2 separate regions of the Homo sapiens genome follow, and region 1 is linked to region 2. Evidence: fine-mapped expression QTL. A gene starts in region 2. The other region holds a variant in brackets. All regions are shown on one strand. Distances are between the middles of the regions. Region 1 has its middle 50 kb from the start of CNTN3. Region 2 holds the start of CNTN3 (contactin 3).

Evidence for each region. PIP is the estimated chance that this variant, and not a neighbour inherited with it, causes the effect.
Region 1: its variant is fine-mapped to the expression of CNTN3 in spleen (GTEx, PIP 0.92).

What each region holds. Positions count from the first base shown.
Region 1 is chr3:74,660,353-74,668,761 of GRCh38, forward strand. No RefSeq gene overlaps it. Among named protein-coding and RNA genes, the nearest start is that of CNTN3, 50 kb to the left of the region's middle. The variant G/A (reference allele first, on the strand shown) is at 3,390.
Region 2 is chr3:74,609,971-74,618,379 of GRCh38, forward strand. CNTN3 (contactin 3) reads right to left here and starts at 4,689. Exons shown (of 23, transcript NM_020872.3): 1 at 4,421-4,689. It overlaps LOC105377166 (a long non-coding RNA gene), which reads left to right and starts at 3,833. Exons shown (of 3, transcript XR_007096257.1): 1 at 3,833-3,921; 2 at 6,303-6,477.

The DNA.
Region 1 (8,409 bases), 50 kb after region 2:
CTTCTACTTTCCCTAGGGGAATAATGTCACACATAAAATCTTTATTTTTGACCTGGAATAGTTACACTATCAAAGAACCTACAAACCTCTGCATGTGGAGGTAGGGGTCATAACAACAATCTCTTGGGTTCTCTTACTTTTGTATATACATATATGTATTTAGACAGGGTCTCACTCTGTTGCCCAGACTGAAATGCAGTGGTGTGATCACAGCTCACTGCAGACTCAATCTTTGGGGGTCCAGCAATCCTCCCACTTCAGCCTCCCGAGTAGCTGGGAACACCGATGCATGCCAACATCATACCCCACTAATCCTTTTTTTTTTTTTTTTTTTTTTTTTTTTTCTGTAGAGACAGGGTTTCACTTTGTTTCCAAAGCTGGCCTTGAAATTCTGGGCTTAAGCAATCCTCCAGCTTCTGCCTCCCAAAGTACAGGGATTACAGGTGTGAGTCACCTGGCTGGCCAGGTTTCATTACTTTTGTATAATTATTCTTGAGAACAGTATTTAAATTATTTGTGTCTGCTCTTAGAACACTGACTTCATATGACACTATTAGTTTGGAGAACAAAAAAAGTATCTGGTCTTAGGAAAGCAAAGACAACAATTCTGCTTGGATGGACTACACCTTACTGTCTCCAACTCTGACAGCAGCCATAGTAACAAAAGAGAGTATTCACTATGTGCCAGACATTATGCTAGCTATGTTACATAATTAAATTATGTAATCTTCATCACATCTGAATTTTATAAATAAAGAACTGTTAAATAGCCGCCTTGAGATCATAAGGCTAGAAGACGTCAGACATGGAGCTCAAACCATATCTGTCTGACCATTCTGGAATCCCAGTCCATGTACTTAGTGGCTTTACAATACTGTTCTTCATTGTTGCCGTATGTTCTCCTTCTTGGCACTAAGATGATAGTTCTGATTAAAGAGCAAATTTTCAAATCTTAGATATGCTGAAGACCTTTGAACTCTTTTTGAATAACTTATCTTGCAGATGAAACAGGAGGGCTACATGGGGTTAAGGCTGTTGATTAAGGTCACAGAGGTAGCTATTTGCAGAATTAGCACAGACTTAAGCCTGCTAAGCAATGTGGCTGTTTAGATTTATAGGAGCAAAGGAAAAGATGATCAGTCTACAGCTTCCTGGTATATTTTCATTCATTTATTCCTACATTAATTCATTCAGCTGATATTGGAGAATATCCTACATTTCCAGCCCTCAGTTGGGTCATAAGGACACCACTCTAATCCGGCATGGTCTCTACACTTACGGGCAGTTATTAATTGTGGCATAAATTTAGTTACTTCTTCAAAACTTTGAGGTGTTTTCTCTCTTTTGAGCCTTTGAGACTTTAAAATAAATGCTACTTGGTGTTAGCACCTTTCTATCCTAAAATCACCTCACTTCTCCATGCTCAGAAGAGCACAAATTCTTCCTAGTAACCAGGAAGTGATAGAATTTATATTCTGTATCTGACCTAGTTACAATCCCTGACACTTCCTGTTTTCTCTAAAGGGTTGATTTATTGTTGCACAACAGATCTTTATACATTTCTTCAGTCACAAGATATGCACTGGTGGCTACTCATGCACTTGTTGTTTGAAGACATTGGTTTCCAAATTCTTTTAATGCTGAACCATCTATCTTGAATGCTTGGATTAAACAAACATGATTCCTTTTTGCTATCAGATACCCCATTTATAAGGGTAATTTCATGCCATTTACACAAGAAAAGCATGGCATGTGCTTTTCACATAAAGAATTATGTTTTGTTCTTAGTACTCTAGAGATTGTGAAAAATATACTCTAGTGCTTTGGAGGATTTTCCGCTGGAAATCATTGAATCTTAATCTACTTTCTAAAATTTGTCTTATTATTTTTGACGATATCCATTCAAAATAGGTTTCTGCCTGTTTTCTGCAAGGGAAAAAAACAAATAATTCTCCAAACTAATACACACACTATATATTATATATAATGTATACATTTTATGTTATGTAATATATACATTATATATGTGCACAAATATGCAATATGTAAATATGTGTGTATATATACACATGAAAAACATAAAGGAAGGCAATTATTAACATTTAGTGTATTATTAATCTCTTCCAGAGTTTTGGAACCATGCCTCAATTACATAAAATCATGTATGTGATATCTATTATAACACCTTACATCTATCTACATGGAGCATAATTTATTCTTCATAAATATTTAGTCATTTGAATTGAGAAGTGAAGCATACAACATAATGGATGCCATTGGTTTCCCACCTAGATTCTGCTTTTACAGCCAAGTGCACCCATTTAACAGCTACTGTGAATGGTGGCAACTAACAGCTGGCAGCTACGCCCTTCTCCAAAGACACTGCTTCAGTTGATAGAAACTACATCCAGAGCCCACTGTGGACCAGGTCAAGCCTAGACTTAACTGAGACCACCTCCTGCTCATCTCCTTTATCTGCCCCATTCTTGCTCCCCTCACTCTTTTTGATAGCTTAGTCATATTGGGAATACAAAGCTTTTACGTTTTTTCTTTAGGTTAGGTCTTAGAAGACAATAAATAATGTAGCTGAGTATGAGAGGACATATATTTTTTCCCCAGGTTCTTGGGGACAGAGAGCTTTGAGATTTGAGTAGAAAATGTGCTCAGTGGCTGAATATTGGAAAGGGCCACTCCAGTAGCATGATCAAATTTCTAAATTGACCACAGTGATTGATCATATTTACAAAATTTATGATAATGTTTTTCTCCCCAGTTTTCTTGACTTCCTTCATTCTCTTTTCAGGTGCAAATGAGGCATTCTTTAATAAAGGACAAATCATCCTTGCAGAAGTTTTCCAAATAATATATGTAGATATTTTCCCTTCCAGGAAGTGGAGATTAATTCTCCACTACGAGTTAGACCTGGTATCTCTTTTCCAAAGAATAGGTTATGAACAGGAAAAAAGAATAGCTTTACAATGATGAAACCTGACAAATAATACTTTGACCGAATGATCAAGGTTAACATACTCTGTGTAACTTAAATTGATATTATGTACCCCATGATGTAATGTCATGAGTTGGGCACTTCACCTCTCTGGCATTCTTCTTCGGAACCAATAACCCAGCCTAATCCTTTGAAGACACCAGACAAACCAAATTAAGGGACATTCTACCAAAAATCTAATATTCTTCAAAACTGTCAATATCAAGGAAAACAAGAAAAGATTGGCAAACTGCCACAGATTAGAGAAGACTAAACATAATGCAGTATTCTGGATTGGAGCCTAGTACATAAAGAGCTCATTAGTGGAAAAGCTCCTGATATCCAAATACAGTTTGAGGTTAAATTGTAATAGTGTTGAGCCAATGTTAATTTCTTAATTTTG[G/A]CAAATGTTCTATACTTGCTATTATTCAAGATAACATTAGGGAAACTGGATGAAGGTTATTCAGAAAATTGCTCTACTATCTTTGCAACTTTCCTGAGAATCCAAAATTACTTTCAAATAAAAAGTTGTATTATATATAGAGAAACATTGCCTCAGTATAGATACTTTTATAGCTAAAAGTCAATAATTGAATGAAAAAAGCAGAACTAATGCAATGGATTAATCTTATTTTGGCTTTTGATATAGAAACACCAACATGAGGACTACTGCATAAATTTGGAAAAAAATTAATCATTCAAATCTTTCAAATCATTTAATCCTCCAAGATAAATTTTGAGATCGTACTATGTGCTAGACACTGGAAATAAACAGCCATTTACCTACATTATATAATATGTGCTCTAGAGACTGGCTGTTGGAGCCCAATCCTTCTGTGCCTCAGTTTATTTAACTGTAAAATGGGGGTAATAAGAATGATAGTTTATAGAGTTGTGGAGATTAATTGAGACAATGATCATACAGCAGGAGATATAGAACTATGAGCCGTATGTTACGTACTATATTATTATTATTACAAGCATCAGATACATGAATCTGGTATTATCAGCACTATCATCATTAACTACCCCTCCTTTGCTTTAGTTCTGTCAACTTTCTATGTTATAACATATATACATATATATATGTTTATATATATATGCTTGCCTTCTTCTAATATACAAATCAGTAAACAGCATGAACATAATTTAACAGAATTTGAATCATTAAGAAGGGCAACATATTTTGAATCTTTAAATGGTACCATTTAAAGTTCCATTGTAGTCATTTATAATACTAGTTCGGAGCTTTTTATTATGACCATTTCAGAAACAAATTGAGGCCATGTATGGAAACTACATTTTAGAAATATATTAAAATGGATGAATAAATTAAGTTAGGAGATTATACAAACAGATAACATTTATGCTAAGGAGCTAAAATCATACTGGCACACAATCGAAGCCAGCTCCCTTTTTCTGGCTGCAATACAGAAAGGACCGTTTTCCCAGTCTTGTTTCTTGCATTTCACCCTTTACAGCCAGAACCAGATAAAACTACTTTGGGCCATTTGTTTACTGACATTAAAGTGGATTTATGGAGACCGAAAGTCTTTCTATTGTCCCTTCTGGGCTGAATCAAATTTATTTAAATGGTAATTCACTCACATATTTCTAATCCCCTTTGAATGCTTCCTTTGTTTATAATAACCACAGATATTAAGGATTTAGAAAATCAGTTCACAAATATTATTGAACATATTGAGTAATAAAAGCCTCATTCTGATACTTAGTAAATTAGACATTCCTGAAGAAAATGGAATATTTCCATTTTCAAACTAAAGATTTACTATATTAGACAAAGGATTTAAACATAATCTTATATGTAAAATTAATCACTAATTCTGGGATATAGTTAATAACTACTCTTGGAAAATAGAGTCTATTATCATAACTTCCCAAAAGTCATTTCCGTTGTGTTATCCCAACCACTGCCTTTTTTTTTAGTTAAAAATTTTCCACTGGCAATACTTATTTTTTTCTTTTCATTTGGGTCTTTTAGCTCTGGTCTTATTAGTTTATTAACATATCTCTTATTTTTAAGGATACTTTTAAAATAAAATTATTGGATTTAGTTTGACAACTGTGTCTATTCGTTTGGCTTATAAACTTGACAGATTTGTAAATGCCTCCAACTTCCTCTCTGTTTTAAGACATATTCTTACCAATAATACTTTCTGTAGGTTGTGTATGCCTGTGCTTCATAGTGAAACCTATAAAACTATGGTGCAACATCAACACCAGTTTATAGATACATATTTTCATTGTTCTCCTAACCAACTATTGTCAGGAATACTAAGTTGACACAACAACATTGCCAGAAAAAGTGGAAAATATACAGCACTAGATGTGCACTCGGCACATTTTTCTACATTTATCAAAATATGTTCATAGGGACCTAATTTTTTGTTTAGTTTGGTTAATAATGTTATGATCTAACACTGATGAAAATTCAGACATTCTCTGACTAGATATAAAAGCAAGCTCCAAGTATATGCTATTTTTTATGAAACAGACTTAAAATATAACAAAACAGAAGACTTGAACAACACTATTTATCAATATCATGGATCAATACTAAAGGCATTATGCTGCATACGAGGAGCCAGACTTCCCAATCATATATGAATGATTCCATTTATAAGAAGCCAAGGACAGGTTATTATAAATTTATAAATTAATTTAAAAACAAAACAAAACAAACAAACAAAAAAACCTAATGTATTCCTTACATCAGGGCTACCTCAAGTGCTTGTTGATTTCCCAGGCCACATCCTAGGTCTTTTAAATTAGAATATTTTGGAAAGAGAGCCCCCAGATCTGTATTTAACACTTTTCTCAGGTGACTCTTAAATAATCTGAAGTGTGCAAATCATTGGCCTGCAAGATATTAAGAAAGAAGGAGTGCCACATAGTAGATAGACAAATATGGGTACAGAGAGGCAAGGTGATTTTTCCAAGGTCTTGCAGTAAATGAGTTGCAATGACAGGTGTCCTGACTCCCAATCTATGGCCATTCCCATTATATTACAGGTGATTCTTAGTTTAGATACGGGGGTGAATTAAATGGATCTGTGGAATACATTGTGACACTTGCATCACAAGTGACCCTGAGCCATTTCCACTTTCACTCTGAATTCCAGGAGTAATCTCCCTATCTCTCTTTGCCAGGATTATGTAACACATCACATTCAGAATCATGTAGAAAAGTTGATATGAGACTTATCAGAAGGAAACAGATTGCTGTAGAGAGTAGAAGAAGGCAAAGATGGTGGAGACAAGAAACAGAAGAGGAGAGAAAATAGAAAGACTCTAGTTTATGGCAAAAATAGGAAACAAACATCTTTTAATTTTTAGAAAGTGATTAGTATCAGGTAATAGTGGATTCATGGGCATACACCTATTCATACCTTCATTAAACTAAAAGTTGAGAACAATAATGTTAAAGCTACAGAACTGTGGAATAATCATAATATACTGATTTTGATTCTGATAGTATTACTTTTTTATTATGTTTCTTTTCCCGAATTTTGTTATTGGCTGCTAGTCTAAATTTAGCTCTTTTCTGCTAATTGCTATTGCAAATATTCATTTACATATTGAACAACAATTTTTATCATCTCTTTAACCTGTAATTTCAGACACAAATTAAAGACAAAACTTTGGTTATTTCTCTGAGCAAGCTGAAGTCTATGAAGAATAGGTATAATTCCTTGAATTTGATAATTTCCATTCATTGAATCCATTGAATTTATAAAAAAATGAAGACTGCTTTTTACCAATGCATTCAAAGTAAACATTGCTGAAATCCACAATTCACATATAACTCTTGGAATTCTTTAAAAGATGAATAGTTTAAAATAGGTAACTGAGGGATAACCAGTTGATTGTTTTTAAAGGAGGGGGAAGTTTGCAACATATATGAACAGAAGTGCAAATTTGAAGATTTTCAAATCTTAACATTAATACTGACAATCAAATCAACTCCCAAAAACCAGAAACAAACAATAGAGTGCTCCACAATTTATAAAATTCCTTCACAGATATTATTTAAAATCATCTTAACAAAAACCATGAGATATGAGGGAGAGGTCTGAAACCACATTGTATTGTTAAGGTTATGGAGGCTTGGGTTGCCCTGATGGGGGTCAGCAATGTTAGGGCTTTCAGGTACTTAGTGGTTATTAATTATATTCCTTATATAATAGCTGAGGAGATTAAGGATTAAGGAAGAGAAATGATTTGCAGAAGGACACAAAGTCCAGAAGTCCTCGAGCTAGGATTGGAACTGTCAGAAGTAAAGCTTGGAGTTGCAAAGAAAATGAGCACTTAAACAAAGGATTTCTCAGCAAGGCAAAAGTTATTTCTGCAAAAGGGTGCTGCTCACAAGTTTGGTCACCATAAGAGCACACTGAATGAAGGAGGGAAGGGGTTTTTATCCCTAATGCGGCTTGTCCCTGCTACTGTGTCTTACCTCCACTGGCTGGAGTTGGACCACAAAATCTAAGCTGAACCTGATTGGTTAACTTGAATGGTGCAGGAATGTGGTTACACTGGCAGATAGGGCAGTTTTGTTGGGAAGAGCCGTTATGACAGGAGGGGTAATTTACAGAGTGGGTAGCAGATATGGGCCGTGTAGATAAGGATGGGCAGGAAAGGTGTTTCTGAAACTGAAACAGGGAGGCACAAAGGATAAGGAAGTTAGTTTGGCCTTCAAAGTAGGGAACAAAGAACAAGGACGCTGAACAAGCCAAACCTTTGAAGAGGAACTTCTTTTGTACCTGACTGAACCAGGTGTTGCTAGCTGGTCATGGTCACATTCCAAAGGACTATGTTGGATTTGACTGATCACAACAATCACATCGAGAGGATCAGTGTCTGATCATTCCATTTTGCGTCTTATGGGTACAGCCACAGAATTAGACTCATATTTTTTAAAATTCAATTTTACCCAATTTTTCATCCCTGGTTCTCTTGTCTGACTGGCTTTTTGCTTTGTCTTTGATTAATGTGTCACAGAGAGGTGACTGAGACCATAAAGTTGCTGATAGTAGCATAGATAAGAACGGCAGCACATTCTGGGATTTAGGAAATGTGGGCATTTTTCTCCTTTCTGCCATTAATTGGCTCTATGAACAGGAATGAGCCTCTACATTAAGGAACAATTTGTAATCTGTGTTATTTCCTTCGTATGATAGAAATTAAAAGAAACCATATGTTAATAGAGTATATAAAAATAAAAATGCCCTACATGTGCAATTTGTTTCTGTAAAATTCCACTTCTATTAGTTAGACAATAAGTAACTAAAATGAGAGTCAAATAACCTTTCTTAGGTGCATGTTGGTATATAAATATATTCTTCATTACCATCACAGAAACCAGGTTTGGAAAGAGCTTTAAATTATTTCAGTCCAACCACCAT
Region 2 (8,409 bases):
GAGCCCTCTCTAAGCAAATGATATTTACACTGTGGCCTAAGGGATGAGTAGCAGTCAAAAACTCTATGTGGGCCAGACTCAGCGGCTCACACCTATAATCTCAGCACTTTGGGAGGTCGAGGTGGGCAGATCGTTTGAGTTCAGGAGTTCAAGAACAGCTTTGGCAACATGGTGAATTCCCATCTCTACAAAAAATCCAAAAATTAGCCAGGGCATGGCGGTGTGTGTCTATAGTCCCAGCTACTCAGGAGACTAAGGTGGGAGAATCACTTAGCCCAGGAGGTCGAGGTTCCAGTGAACCATGATCGCACCACTGCACTCCAGCCTGGGTGACAGAGTGAGACCCTGTCGAAAAAAACAAAAATGAAAAAAAAAACCCTGTGAGTTTGTGTGTGTGCACACGTGTGTGCGTATGTGTGTTTAGGCGTTAGGGCTGGACAGGGCTACTGGGCAAAAGAACAGAATGATCCCTAACATAGGAAAGAGCTCAACACATCTGCAGAAATGAAAAAGGGTCTAAGAAGCTCTTGTTCCTAAAAGCTTGCTAGGAATTGTCAAAGGGACAGTAGTGTTTAAATCCCACACAGCCTTGCAGGTAATATTTAATAGTTTGGATTTTATTCTGAGTTCAATGAAAAGCCATTTAAGCATTCTGAGTAGATGAGTACTAATTTAACTTACATTAAAAAAAAAAGAAGTCTTGGCTGCTATGCAGGATGATTTGGGGGAAGAAGTACGAAAGGAGCCAAGGAAGCCAGTGTAGTTATCCCAGGAGAGAAGATGGGGACTTGGAGAAGGAGGACGTGGGTGAACATGGAGGGAAGTGGGCGAATGTGAGAGATATTTCAGGGTTAGAACCAAAAGGACATATAAGGTCTGAGTTGTACTAGTTCCCCAAAATAAAAGCACTTGAAGTATTGTGATGGTGTCAAGATTTACCCTATTAAAACAGTATACTGACAGCCTCATTTATCAGTAATATAATCAAGCAGTTTTGAAATATGGATCTCATATCTTAACATCTGAAAGGTAATCAAAGTCAAGGGACTTAAAAAACAAATGGGACAAAATTGTTCTCTTGTTTTAGAACATAGGAAATTTACAAGCTGAGTTATAAAGGCACCTAAGAGAATGCTATGGAATCACTACAACATAGATAATCTATGTCTTCAAATGCCAATAGGTCTGCAACAAGAAATATGCAAACTCACTGAATTATTTTATCCTACTTAAGAAAATAGTCATTTTTCCTCATTCCTTGCAAGGCAGGTTCTTGCACAGTAAAGATTCTACAAATATTTACATTCCAAGTAGCAAAGCTGTTTGAAATGCTATAAAGTTCTGCCAGCACTTCTATTACAAACCCTTATTTCTTGTTTATAACATGTACATAAAAGGGGGAAAATAAAAATGTACTATGGATTGAAACTTGGCATACAAAGTTTCAACCAGGGAGTGCATTTCTCCTGCAGCAATTTTTCCAAAGAAATGTCCCACTGTGTTTAAGAGATGAGTGCAGGGGAGACTATAAGATAAAAACCATTTACAACACTCGATCCATTTCTGAAATGTTTATACAAATTGGATATGAGAATGAGATCTGTCACCCCTCAATTTCAAAGAAATGTTCTATCTTAAACTGTTCCGTGGCCCCATATTCTCTTGCCAACTATCTTTGCAACAATGATATTCTCCATTGCACTTTTTTCAAGCATAAGAAAGGAAACTGTCCACCAGCATTAAGTGATTAATTATATATGCATGTTAAAAGTATATGCATATGCATGTGTGCATATTAAAAACTACAAGTGAGCACCTTAAAGATGCTCACCTTCATAGAGACAAAGTACCTTGCTAAGATAAGAAGGCTTAAAGGCAGACTGGTGGTGACAACTAAATCAGAGACAGCAGGCAAACATGCACAGCATCAATAAATCCTCCTGCCATCTGAATATATTCCACTACATAAAATTAACATTAGTTTTACTGCTAACAACTTACTAACTGGTGATTGGAAACCAGTCAAAGCTTCTCTGTTTTGTAGTATTGCCACAGTATAGCGATATACAGATCTGACAGTTTGGAAGCAGCAATTATATCTATATACTATTTCAGCATGAACCATATTAAGAGTTAATGAGAACTTCAAGTTGGACACTTAAATTTTGCAGTAAAAACAAAGCTGGAAGATGTGTACTGAATGTGTGAGAAGGAGTTAGGAACTTGTAAAAGAGAAAGATGCATATTTTGCAAGCAGAGAAAAGAGGCTATTAGTTTGTAATAACTGGGCATATATGAAATGTGACAGTGATAAAATTGAACATAAATCAGCAAAGGAAAGGCTACAGCTTGTTGTCCACGGCTAATCTTCTCTCTACTTGAAAGTGCTCAGCACTTTGCTCCTATTAAATGCTTTGTTGCCATTTTAAGGTACACTTGGGCTATCTGGTTGTGTTGTGAAGAATATTTAAAAGTTAGAGTTCTCCTGGAGAAATGAACTTAACATCTTCATGTCTTCGGGCTGACATTAATGACATCCAGACAGTGAGGAGGACATGAGGCTGAATGTTATTGTCTGTGGCGGCCACAGCCTGAATCTATTACCCTGCATATCAATTAGACACTCGGTGTCTCGGTTATCCTACTTTTAGACAGAAGGGCCACTTGCATGCATTCAGCCTTACTATTCATCTTATAAAAGTGTACAGCAATTTGCTATATTTCCCTGGTGGATACTGATCATTTTGGGGGTCCTCAAACCACATGTTTACTCTCAACTAATTTCAAGCAAGTATTCAAAGACCAATAATTCCCAACCCCACTCTTTATTATTTGCAAGCCAACATCCTTCCATTTAGTGAGGCTGAACCCGATCAGATTTCTTTAATGAACATTCACAAGGACCTCTCCCATTGCAACCAGTGACATGCACGTATTAGGCATCTTACAAATGTTGCACAAATTGATATGAATATTAACCTGCAGTCAACTTTCTCCCTAGTCCCATGACCCACAAATGGTTAAAACCATGAACCAAGATGCCAGGTTACTGCAGCCAAAGTCAGGTTACTGTTAGTAAACACATCTAGCAAAGCAAAAGTAACACATTTGACTTGATATTGAGATATAAGCTCTTTCAAAGGCAATTACTCCTCCTTTCAATCTCTGAAGGGCTCTGACTCATTGTTCTGATTAATTCCTGTTTTTAATCTATTTACAGATCAGGATTCTTTTTCAGCTAGTGTGATATTCATCTCTGTGGGGGTAGACAGAAACCACAGCACGTACAGTCTTCCTACTTTTTTTTTTTTTTTTTTAGTTATTCTTGCTTAATCATTTTAAAATTATTTCTGGATTTACCTACTCACCATATGAGCTGGGGTTTCTGACCTCCCTCCTGCACATCACGCCCTCCTTGTCTGTTGCTTTTTCTAGCTCTGTTTCCCTGCATCTTGGGTTGAGGTTAGCAGACTGGCTACCCCTTTCCCAGAGCTCTGTTCCCCTTTCTTTGCCTCTGAAAGGAGGTTTGCTGTCCTTACCGTAGCGGACACCGTTTGTTATTAAATAATACCTCTGGACACATCTCCTTGTTGTAAATCAATAAGCAAATGCAATACAGGGAAAGACATACGGATTGGAGAGTTGTACGGAGCTTTGCACAAGCAGAGCCCAGAAGCTGTTCGTTCATTTCACGCGACCAGAAAAAATTCCTGATGGTGCTATGACCCCGGTGCCCGGTTGGCACTTCCTGGTTTTCTGTTTCTGCTATTCTGTTACCTGCTTGGTTAGCTTTGCAGGCTCCTCAGAGAACACAGAAACAGCTGAAACCAGGGTCCGAGCTCAGGAAACCTGGACTACAGCGCAGCAGGGTAAACCTGACAAATAAACGCGACGGGGAACTCCGTCCCAAGCTGCTGATCTGTGAGTAGAAAGAAAATGCAGCTTAGAAAACTTGATCGCTAATGAAAGAATCGGCCACCCTAGCTTTCTCAGACCTGGGAATCTGGGCCTGGGGGGTGGTTCCAGCAAAGAGGTATCACATTCCCACATTCTGCATCATGCACCTGGAATTGTTCCTCAGCATCCCTAGGAGTCACAACTTTTTTCCCCCAACTTTAACTGGTCAAATCCACTGCGCGAAGGGCAAGCCCAAGGGACCTACCACTCAATTTTCAGCGCTCCAGCTGGGGATGCAGCCTTCCCAACCCGAAACCAATCCTCGCCCCAGAAGGGGAAAAATAATCTCCCCAGAGCAAGTCCGATGAGAGAAGCATCTTTTATTCTCGACCCGTCAGGTGCATTTCCCTGCAAACAAACTTCGGGGCTGAGGAGCCATGAAGCCAGGGCGTAAAGTTTGCCCTGGCAGGTGGCTCATCCCTGTGGCCCGGCCGGCGCCAGGAGTCGGGCATCCCGGACTTACCTGGTCTCTGCAGCTCGCCAGACGCCCGCCCCGACGGCCCACTCGCCGCCGCCGCCGCCGCCGCCGCCGCCGCCACCGCCGCCGCCGCAGTTAGTCCGGGCCCGGGGGGCCGCCGTGCGCGCCCGCGTAAGCCGCCGCCGCCGCAGGCGCAGCACCCTCGTCCGCACGGTTCCCGGCCCAGTCCACGGCGCCAGCCCGCCCGCCGCTGCCACCGCCGCCGCCGCCAAGCGCCAGGCTGCTGTGGCTGCTGCCGGCGCCTAGCGAGCACTGCCCGTGCCTCCGCCACTCCGGCTCCGGCTCCGGCTCCGACGCGGACGCTGGAGGGAGGGGAGACCGGGCGGACTGGAGGGAGGGAGGGGCGGGGAGCGCGGCGGAGCAGCCAACTGGGTCCCGAGCCTCGCGTCTGCGGCGCCCCCAGCGCCTCTGCGCCGGCCGGACCCCGCGCGGCCCTGCGCTCGGCCGCGTGCACCCACGTGTGTCCGGCCTCCGCAGGGCCCTGGGCGGCGGCGCGGGCTGGGCGGCGGTCACCGTGTCACCTCCGGGTGGCCTCGTGCCACGCAGTTAGGGCCCTCGGAACACGGGGTTAAGGCAGGAATTCCACTTCTAGAAAAGCCTCCTGCAGCTGCGCTCCCACAAGTGCGCAAAGATTGCCAATTTTAATATTAAAGCGGATAATTATTAAGGGCTCACTAGGTAGCAGGTCGTGGACTGCGCTAAATCAATTAGTTCATGCAGTCCCCAGAGCAACCTGGATCTATTATTATTCCCGGATTTAGTGATGAGGAAATTGGTTTGCTTAAAGTTTCAATGAGTCAGTTGTGAGAATAATCGCAACTATATTCTGTCAAGGACCCTGTGAAGTAGATCTTACCACCTTTATTTGCCCAAGTATACACACAGTGGTGGGTTGGAGAACCCGGACTTGAATAAGCCTGTTGCAGTCCTGAGCCTTTGCGCTGAACCGCTGGTGACTTACTTCCAGTCAAACCCGTGCAAACACTGCAACTTTAGTTGTACGAAAAACAGTTGGGAACAACCTACCTGTCCTTCATTAGGAGAGTGGCTGATAAAATACAGTGGAGACATACAGCGGCAGAGAGAAAGGTGCATCTACTAGTATTGGCATAAATGACCTCCAAGAGGTATCCTTAGAGGCTGGGCGGAGGTGGGTCACTCCTGTAATCCCAGCACTTTGAGAAGCCAAGACAGGTGGATCTCTTGAGCCCAGGAGTTTGAGACCAGCCTGGGCAACATAGGGAGACTTTGTCTCTGCAAAAAACAAACAAACAAAAAGTTTAAATTAGGTGGGCGTCATGGCACGCACCTGTTGTCCCAACTACTTGAGAGGTTGAGGTGGGAGGAGCACTTGAGGGATCACTCGAGCTCAGGAGGTGGAAGCTGCAGTGAGCCATGATTGTGCCACAGCACTCCAGACCAAAAGACTGAGGGAGACCCTGTCTCTAAATAAATAAAAAAATAAATAAACGGTATTGTTAGGAGAACTTGGGACATGTACTGTTGATCGGCACAGGAAAGTTGGTACCTGTACCGTTTTTGTGCTTACAAGCACTTACACACACACACACACACACACACACACACACACACGCACGCACCCTTTTGTGTGTATGTATCCATATTTATGCATTCACAATTTCTGAAAGGATGTCTAAGGATACTGTTAACAATTGTTAGTCCTAGTGAGTGAGACTGAAATTGGAGCAGAGGAGACTTTATACTTTTCATTTTATAATTCTCTGACATTGTTTTTAAAATGTATCACGTTGTCCCTTCATATTAAATAATCTAGTCACATTTAATTAGACTTGACAGTTTATGGCCCTGTTTCCTCTCCTTGATCCTCTCCCTGTGATTCCTGCAGATGGAATGAAGCAACACCTCATCAAGAGAAGCAACCTGGGCAAACCAGGCCTGGTTTAACTGCACTTTCTCACGTTTGATCATTTTCTCAAGAGATACGTGCGTGGTCCTCTGCAATTCAGAATGAAATCTGAACTTCTGGAAAAACTCTCCTAGAGGGGGTTTGAGGACAAGAGGTAAGACCCAGGTCAGTCAGATGCAAGGTGCCGCTCCCTACAGCAAAGTCAGCATGTAGGCCCCCTGCATTTCCAATTGCCACAAAGAAGTTGCTTGGTACTTTGGAAGACTGAGGTGGGAGAATCCCTTGAGCCCTGGAGTTTGAGACCAGCCTGGGCAATACAGTGAGACCGCCTCTCAACAAAAAATTTAAAAATTAGCTGAGCATGATGGTGTGTGTCTGCAGTCCCAGCTGCTTGGGAGGCTGTGGCAGGAGGAGATCGCTTGAGCCTGGGAGGTCCAGGCTGCAGTGGGCCATGATTGAACCACTGCACTCCAGCCTGGGTGACAGAGCAAGACCCTATCTCAAAACAGAACAACAACAATAACAAAAAAAGAAATTGCATGAATGGCTTGACCAGGTGATTTTTCCCTAGTCCCCCTTACTCTATGAGCATACAACAGGATTCTTGAATACATTAGGGAACTTCTGGCCACATTTGCCCTCTCTCACTTTATCAGGAAACTGCTCATCCCTACAAGAGTAATAGCTGGATTACAAAAAATTCCGGGGTTATTTATGTTTTAAAAAGAGGTTGGGGGAGACAGGAATAGATAGAGCACGCTGCTATAAATAAAAATCATGTGCTTTTTCCCCATCAGAATTAAATTGCAGTAAATTTGGACTCCTTAAGCTTCCTCTACTTAGCCAAAGGAAAAAGAAATAGAACAGGTACAGAAAGGTTGTTTATGGTTGTTTCAGTTGTTACTGGTTACTGTAAATAATCTTTTTGCTTGCAATCTGGGAACATGTTGGCAAACCCCCTGCAGGTGACAAAATGTTTTATTGGGTAGAACTGGTGTGTTCTGGAAGGAGCCGAGAGAACTTTACATGCAAATTATGCCCATGCCTTGCCCCTAGCAGGTGCAATTACTGCCATGCCCACATCCATCACAGGCATGGCTCTTCTTTTAATATTTTCAACTTGATGTCTCCTAATACATTTTTCTTCTAATACATACATATATACCTTGTCTAATGGGAAGGGAAAGAGCATTTTCATCAAGGAGGGGGAGCTGGCCACAGGCAGCAAAATGACAGGGAGAAAGACAGGAAAGAAGCTCCTTTAAATTAGAAAGAAATCTAAACCCTAACCCCTTCCAGCCCTCTCCAAATAATTAGTCATTTCTAAACTCAGATTACATTGCCTGTGCTAGTAAAAGCTGATTAGTGCTGGAAAGGGATTTAATGGAATTTTGAGTCTTATGGTTGCAGTGGGGGGGTTGGTGGGGGCTGGCAGATCCTAAAAATTGTAGAAATAATGATGAACATTTAATATAAGCCACAGTCTCATAGACAGGTAAAAGGTGTATAAATATATGTATATAGAGAGACGTGAATCATTTTATACCCTCCCTTTGCCCAAAATGTAAAGCATAATGTGAGTCAACTGAAAGCCTGGTATTTACCAAAAGTTGATACACAAGGGCAGTTTTCAATACAATTTCCATCCAATTTCTGGGCCGGAAGCCCAGGAAATTAAAAAAAAATTAAAGGCACATGTGGGTCTTCTCAGTGTGAATGCCGGATGGAATTTTTATTGAATTTGGCCTCAACTGATTGTAGCATTATAAGCAATTCTGCAGTTAAGTTTCAGCAGCCATTTAGATGGCAAATCCCTTTTTTAGGGTATTATAACTAATAATAATAACTTCCTTTTTATATGGCACCTTTTATATCAAGCACTTTAAAGTGTGAGATCATCTTCCCATTATTAAGATACCCCATCTGTGTTGGAATATAGAAGCTATTTCATGCCAGTGACACCACATAACAGTTATTTGTTTGCATGTTTATTGTGTAGCAAAGGGAAATGAAGAAAAATATCTACTAAACCCAAAGACTGAAATTCTTAGGTAAAAGTATAAATTGGAATATAGCCAAGCTACTA